Regions from separate parts of the Homo sapiens genome. Here region 1 is linked to region 2. A link means that fine-mapping ties the variant in region 2 to the expression of a gene that starts in the linked region. Tissue or cell type: breast. Region 2 holds a variant in brackets; the other region holds the start of a gene. All regions are shown on one strand. Distances are from middle to middle.

Region 1 (2,844 bases), 86 kb after region 2:
CCTGCTATATGGGCTCTAGACTGGAACCAAGAAGCCATAAAATGCCATATGCTGGACACGATAACTCATACCCTATGAGTTACAGTGTACAGCCAATCACTAAGCAATGGTATCTCTGTAAACCAATAACAATTCCTGACCAACTTTGTCTCAGCCCACTCTTCCCCTTCGCCTTTAAAAACCTGCTTGTAACCAAGGCTGAAGGAGCACTCCCCAAGGCAACTGGGAAATGAGTCCTGGGCAGCTGTCCTCATTTTGGCTGAAGTAAACACTTTAAATTATAATTTTGTGCCCCAGCCTCTTCCTTTTAGGTAGACACCACTATTCAATGACATCAAGATCTGAACTGTCCTACTTATCCCAATATCCCACCCCTAAAAAGAAATGTACCGAACCATAAAAAGCCTGAAGTACTCCGACTTACAGACTCCTGTATTAGCATCCTAAGAATTATATTACCCTCTTCAATAGGGAGTAGTATTTTTCATATCAAACCTAGCCTGAGAACAACTGAGATTCAACTAGGAAAAAAAGAAAAGAAAATCCATTAAAGACTGAGTGATTTGAACTCAAAAATATCCATCATCACTTGCTAAATCATAGACAGCAGGTTATTTCCCTCGACTTTGCTGTGCAGACCTGTAGTGGCTCAATTTCTGCCATAATAAAGGCCGTACTAGAAAGAGCAATCCTAACTAAGCGCGCAAGGTAAACATCAAGCTGGGGCCGTCAGGGGCGGGGAAACACTTTCTGAATGGCGGAAGCTCCGAGAGACGCCTTTCCCAGCTGCTCCAGAGGGGAAAGGAAAAGGGAGAAAGTCTGTTTTTCCAGAATCTCCCAAACACAGCCCAGGGGCCTGCTCCGCGGGCCTAAGCGCCTCCACGTGTCTCAGAAGCCTAGCACTATAGATACCCCGGGGCACGGAGCTGGGAAAACGGGAATAGGAAGACACTTTACCCCGAGAAGATCCAGTCCAACAGGTCTTCTTCAGCCGGATGACTGTGGAGCGCCACCACAAGCAGGGCCTGCAACCCAGGCATCCAGGCTAGACACCAAATCAGCAAACTTTATTCCCGCGCTGCCGAGTACAAGCCGGCGCCTCCCCGGCGCACACAGTACACATCAGCTCCGGGAGACCTACCCGACCCGCCCCTCCAGCGCCGTCCCCGCCCCCGTTCCTGCCCCACCCCTTTCCCCGCCCCCGGCCCGGCTCGCCTTTCTCGCGGCGCTGCAACCCTCCCACCACAGCCCATCCAGCCCCGCCCAGCGCGCCGCGGTGCGCATGCGTGGAGGCCCTCGCTGCCGCTGAGCACCTCGGGAAGTGTAGTCTCTTCGCAGGTGCGGCTGGGCAGCTAGAGTCCTGCATCCCGGTGGAATCCGGAGAAGTGAGAACATTCCCGCCGCCCGGTCCTCATTCCCATCTTCCCACCTGTCCAGTCCCCTCGCACTCCCGCTGCACCCCACGCGCCGGGCTTCAGTCAGAGAGTGCACTGAGGAAGAGCGGAGACCCCCTCTTCCCCTCAGCAGGCTGTGCCGGGGGAGGCGGGGTCCACCGCCCGCCCCCCGCCGTCGCTCTCCCCGCCTCCCCTTCCCTCCCCTCCTGGCGGGTGCGGGGCCGGTGTCCGAAGTCAGGCGGCGGCCCCCGCAGCGGCCGCAGGAGGGGCGGCTGCGGTGGGCGCCGCGGGCGATGCCCCTGCCCGGCTGCTCCGGCGGGGGGCAGTGCGAGCGGCGGCGGCGGGGGAGGAGGCGGGGGGCGGCGGCTGCGGCGGCTGCAGCAGAGGGGCCGAGAGCTGGCGGTGGCGGCGGCGGTGGTCGTGAAGGGCATCGGCGGCGGCGGTGATGGCAGAGATGATGTGAGTGCCCGCCGGCTGGAGACCTGGGGCCGCGGAGCGCGGGACGGGCGGCGGCGGCGTGCGGGAGCGGCCCCGGGGGCGGCGGAGGGATGCGGGGAGCGCGGGCAGAGCCGGAGCGGCGGCCGCCAACCGGCCGGCAGTGGCTGGAGCCCCGCGCTGCGGCGCCGGGGGAGCCGGGCCCGGCGTGGGGGTCGCGGGCGGCGGCGGGGCGGTCAGGCCGAGGGGCGTCTGCGATTGTTCTCAACACCCCTCCCCCACCCCATCCCGTGTGTCTGTTTGTTACTTGCAGCTGAAGATGGAAAGAGCCAGGCGAAGGGGAGGCGGCGGCGGCCGCGGCCGCGGAGGCAAGAATGTAGGGGGCTCTGGCCTAAGCAAGAGTAGACTCTATCCCCAGGCCCAGCACTCCCACTACCCCCACTACGCGGCCTCAGCCACCCCTAATCAGGCCGGGGGCGCAGCCGAAATCCAGGAGCTGGCCTCCAAACGAGTGGACATCCAGAAAAAGAGGTTTTACCTAGACGTGAAGCAAAGCTCCCGGGGCCGCTTCCTAAAGATAGCCGAAGTCTGGATAGGGAGAGGCCGGCAGGACAACATCAGAAAGAGTAAACTGACCCTCTCCCTGTCTGTGGCAGCGGAGCTGAAGGACTGTCTAGGGGACTTCATCGAGCACTATGCCCACCTGGGCCTGAAAGGCCACCGGCAAGAGCATGGCCACAGCAAAGAGCAAGGCTCCAGAAGGAGGCAGAAGCACTCGGCACCCTCCCCACCAGTCTCGGTGGGGTCCGAAGAGCATCCTCACAGTGTCCTGAAAACAGACTATATCGAGAGGGACAATAGGAAATATTACCTAGACCTAAAGGAAAATCAGCGGGGTCGCTTCCTACGGATTAGACAAACCATGATGCGGGGGACTGGCATGATAGGTTATTTTGGCCACAGTTTGGGCCAAGAACAGACTATTGTCCTCCCAGCACAAGGAATGATTGAGTTT
Region 2 (2,500 bases):
CCATTGGTTACCATGTATAGGTTTTTCTCCTGAGATTCTTTTTCCTACGGATGAAGGAACAAAGTATTGGTAAATGCTGCCCCAAAATCTTTGCAAGATAATGTTTTCCTTTACAACAAAAAATCTCATAGAACTTAAGTGCCAACAAACTACTTGTTGAGTACTTAAGTAGAAAGGTTCTCCTGCACTTAGATACTGAACACTTAATATTGACTTACGGCAGTCTGTCAGTACAGTGCAACACAATGATTCATACACAGTCAAGGAGAACTGGCATGGTCTCATGGAACTAACCAAGAAAACAAATAGTAACAAGAGTCAAATAGGGACTGAGAGAAATCCTCTGGAATAATCACCACTGTAGCATGGGAAGAAAGAATCAGTAACAAAATCAGTGGTAGTTGAAGTAACTATGGCTGAAGACATCGCAACTTGACAGGATCTGAGGAGAGGAAAAGAACCTGTTCATTAATGCACAATGGTAGGAAAGTATTCCATAGGATCTCTGTGACAGGCCCAAGTATTGTCCTGATTTAGTTAATTCCTCACACTAACTAAGGCATGCTGAAATTAGCTCATCTCCAAGTGGCAACTCTTACCACAAATGTTCTTCTTACATGTCCTCTGGATTTGGGGAGGTTTTATTTTTCTTTTTTTTTTTTTTTACTTTAAATGCACTCACAAATTACTTGGGATACTGGAAATAGCCTCAAACACTTTTGAGGTTTATATGGAAAGAAAGAAAGAAATCTGCAAGAGTAAAAACAATAAATTTTTTTTACCTATTTAAGTTAATGTCTGCAGGAGCCCAGAGGACGTGACAAGAACTTTGAAGTCCATCACGACCAGCTCTACCAATCTCCTGATAATATGATTCCATGTCCTTAGGAGCACCGTAATGAATGACTTGGCGAATGTCAGCTTTATTAATGCCCATTCCAAAAGCTATGGTAGCTATGACACACTGAGAACAAATCACAACACAGTTTGACAAACATATTTAGCAGAATGAAAACCTTACATTTATACCTTTTTGTAAGAATAATTTGTTCGTTAACTTAAGTCCCTGGCACAAAGTGGAATTCAATGTGATTTCAACCAATCATTTACAGATTATCTGCCTGATTTACAGATTAAGGACTGGTGACTAGAAATGGGATTTCTGTTCACTCTCTATAAAAAATAGTAAATAAAGTGGTCTATCTGAACTCCTATGAATACAAGACACAAAAGGGGTTCAAAATATTTATTGTGTTAAAGAAAACTTTTGCATTATAATGAAGTTTCAAGCGTCCTTACCTGATTGCAGAGTATTTTAACATTCTCTAAT[A/G]TTAATCTAAGATGGAAGCTTCTCATTAAAGATGGTGGGATGAAACATAATGCATTATCTCTGCATCTTTAAGAGGGTAAAATTGATAGAATGTCTCATATCTATGAATATACTGAGGTAAGTTTACACAATTGTGGGAAATTTTAGGGAAGAATTAGTGATAAGACATAGAAAATTTTTTTTTAGGTAATAACAATAAAAATACAAATAGATAAGAAAGAAAAATAGCCATAATATACTACATGGCTCAGAGATCATAAAAAGCATTTACAGAGTAATAATTATGTAAATCGTATACACTAATCTAGCCAAAATTATGACATAAACATATTAGGAGGAAAGGGGGTTAGAAATACATGGACAAGGTAAGAAAAAAGGGCAGTTAAGAATGTGAAAGAGAGCTAACCTTTCATCTTTCAGAGAGAAGAGTCGATAAATAATGCCTACGACTAATACACAAATAAACAAAAAATTAAGTAGGAGCCAGGTACATAAACTATGGCAAGATATAGTGGTAAAGTACCAAAAGAATCAGCTAAAAAGGTTGTGAATGGGAAACAGAAGTGGGAAAGACATGAGGCCTTGAAGTTTTTTACTGTAAGAACAGTAGACCTATCTGCATGCCATTTCATAAAGAAAGATTACATGCTAAGATGGACCAGGAATACGAAAGGAAGAGAAAAGAAGGAAAGAAGAAAAGAAAGGAGGGAGGAAAGGAGGAAAATGCTGAGTAAGTAAAAGAAAGTATGAGAAAGGTGAGAAAAAAGTAAATATAGGAATGAATATCATACTAAGTAAAAGCTCTGGCTGAATAAGACTCAGCAATTTTTTGATATATGTAAGAGTCAATAAGCAACACAATAATAATTCTAATTTTAATTATATGGTATTATTTTTAGGTGAGATCAACCTATTTTACAGACATGATTTTCAAACTATCCTTATAAACTCTCAGGTGTAAAGACATTTTATCAAATAATTTATTCACAACATCATTCCTAAAAAGAAAGGACTCAAGGCATCTTGAAAGGGGAAATGAAATACAAAAAGATACGAAACTAATAAAAGTGAGGATTAAAAGTAAAAATGAATGTTCAAGACTAAAAATGCCTATCTACATGCAAATGTGTTTGGATCTGGTTATAAAAATAAGAAAGAAAAGTATACTTT

What was found. PIP is the estimated chance that this variant, and not a neighbour inherited with it, causes the effect.
Region 1: WRN starts here. The variant in region 2 is fine-mapped to the expression of WRN in breast (GTEx, PIP above 0.99). The same link has a PIP of 0.9 or more in Th1 cells, activated naive CD4 T cells, adrenal gland, aorta, atrial appendage and blood mononuclear cells.

What each region holds. Positions count from the first base shown.
Region 1 is chr8:31,032,087-31,034,930 of GRCh38, reverse strand. WRN (WRN RecQ like helicase) reads right to left here and starts at 1,121. Exons shown (of 35, transcript NM_000553.6): 1 at 958-1,121. It overlaps PURG (purine rich element binding protein G), which reads left to right and starts at 1,575. Exons shown (of 2, transcript NM_001323311.2): 1 at 1,575-1,853; 2 at 2,143-2,844. The coding sequence starts at 2,149. RefSeq lists enhancers at 1-13, 847-1,368 and silencers at 84-153, 1,124-1,383, 1,544-1,593.
Region 2 is chr8:31,118,707-31,121,206 of GRCh38, reverse strand. It overlaps WRN (WRN RecQ like helicase), which reads right to left. Exons shown (of 35, transcript NM_000553.6): 21 at 783-964. Among named protein-coding and RNA genes, the nearest start is that of WRN, 86 kb to the right of the region's middle. The variant A/G (reference allele first, on the strand shown) is at 1,331.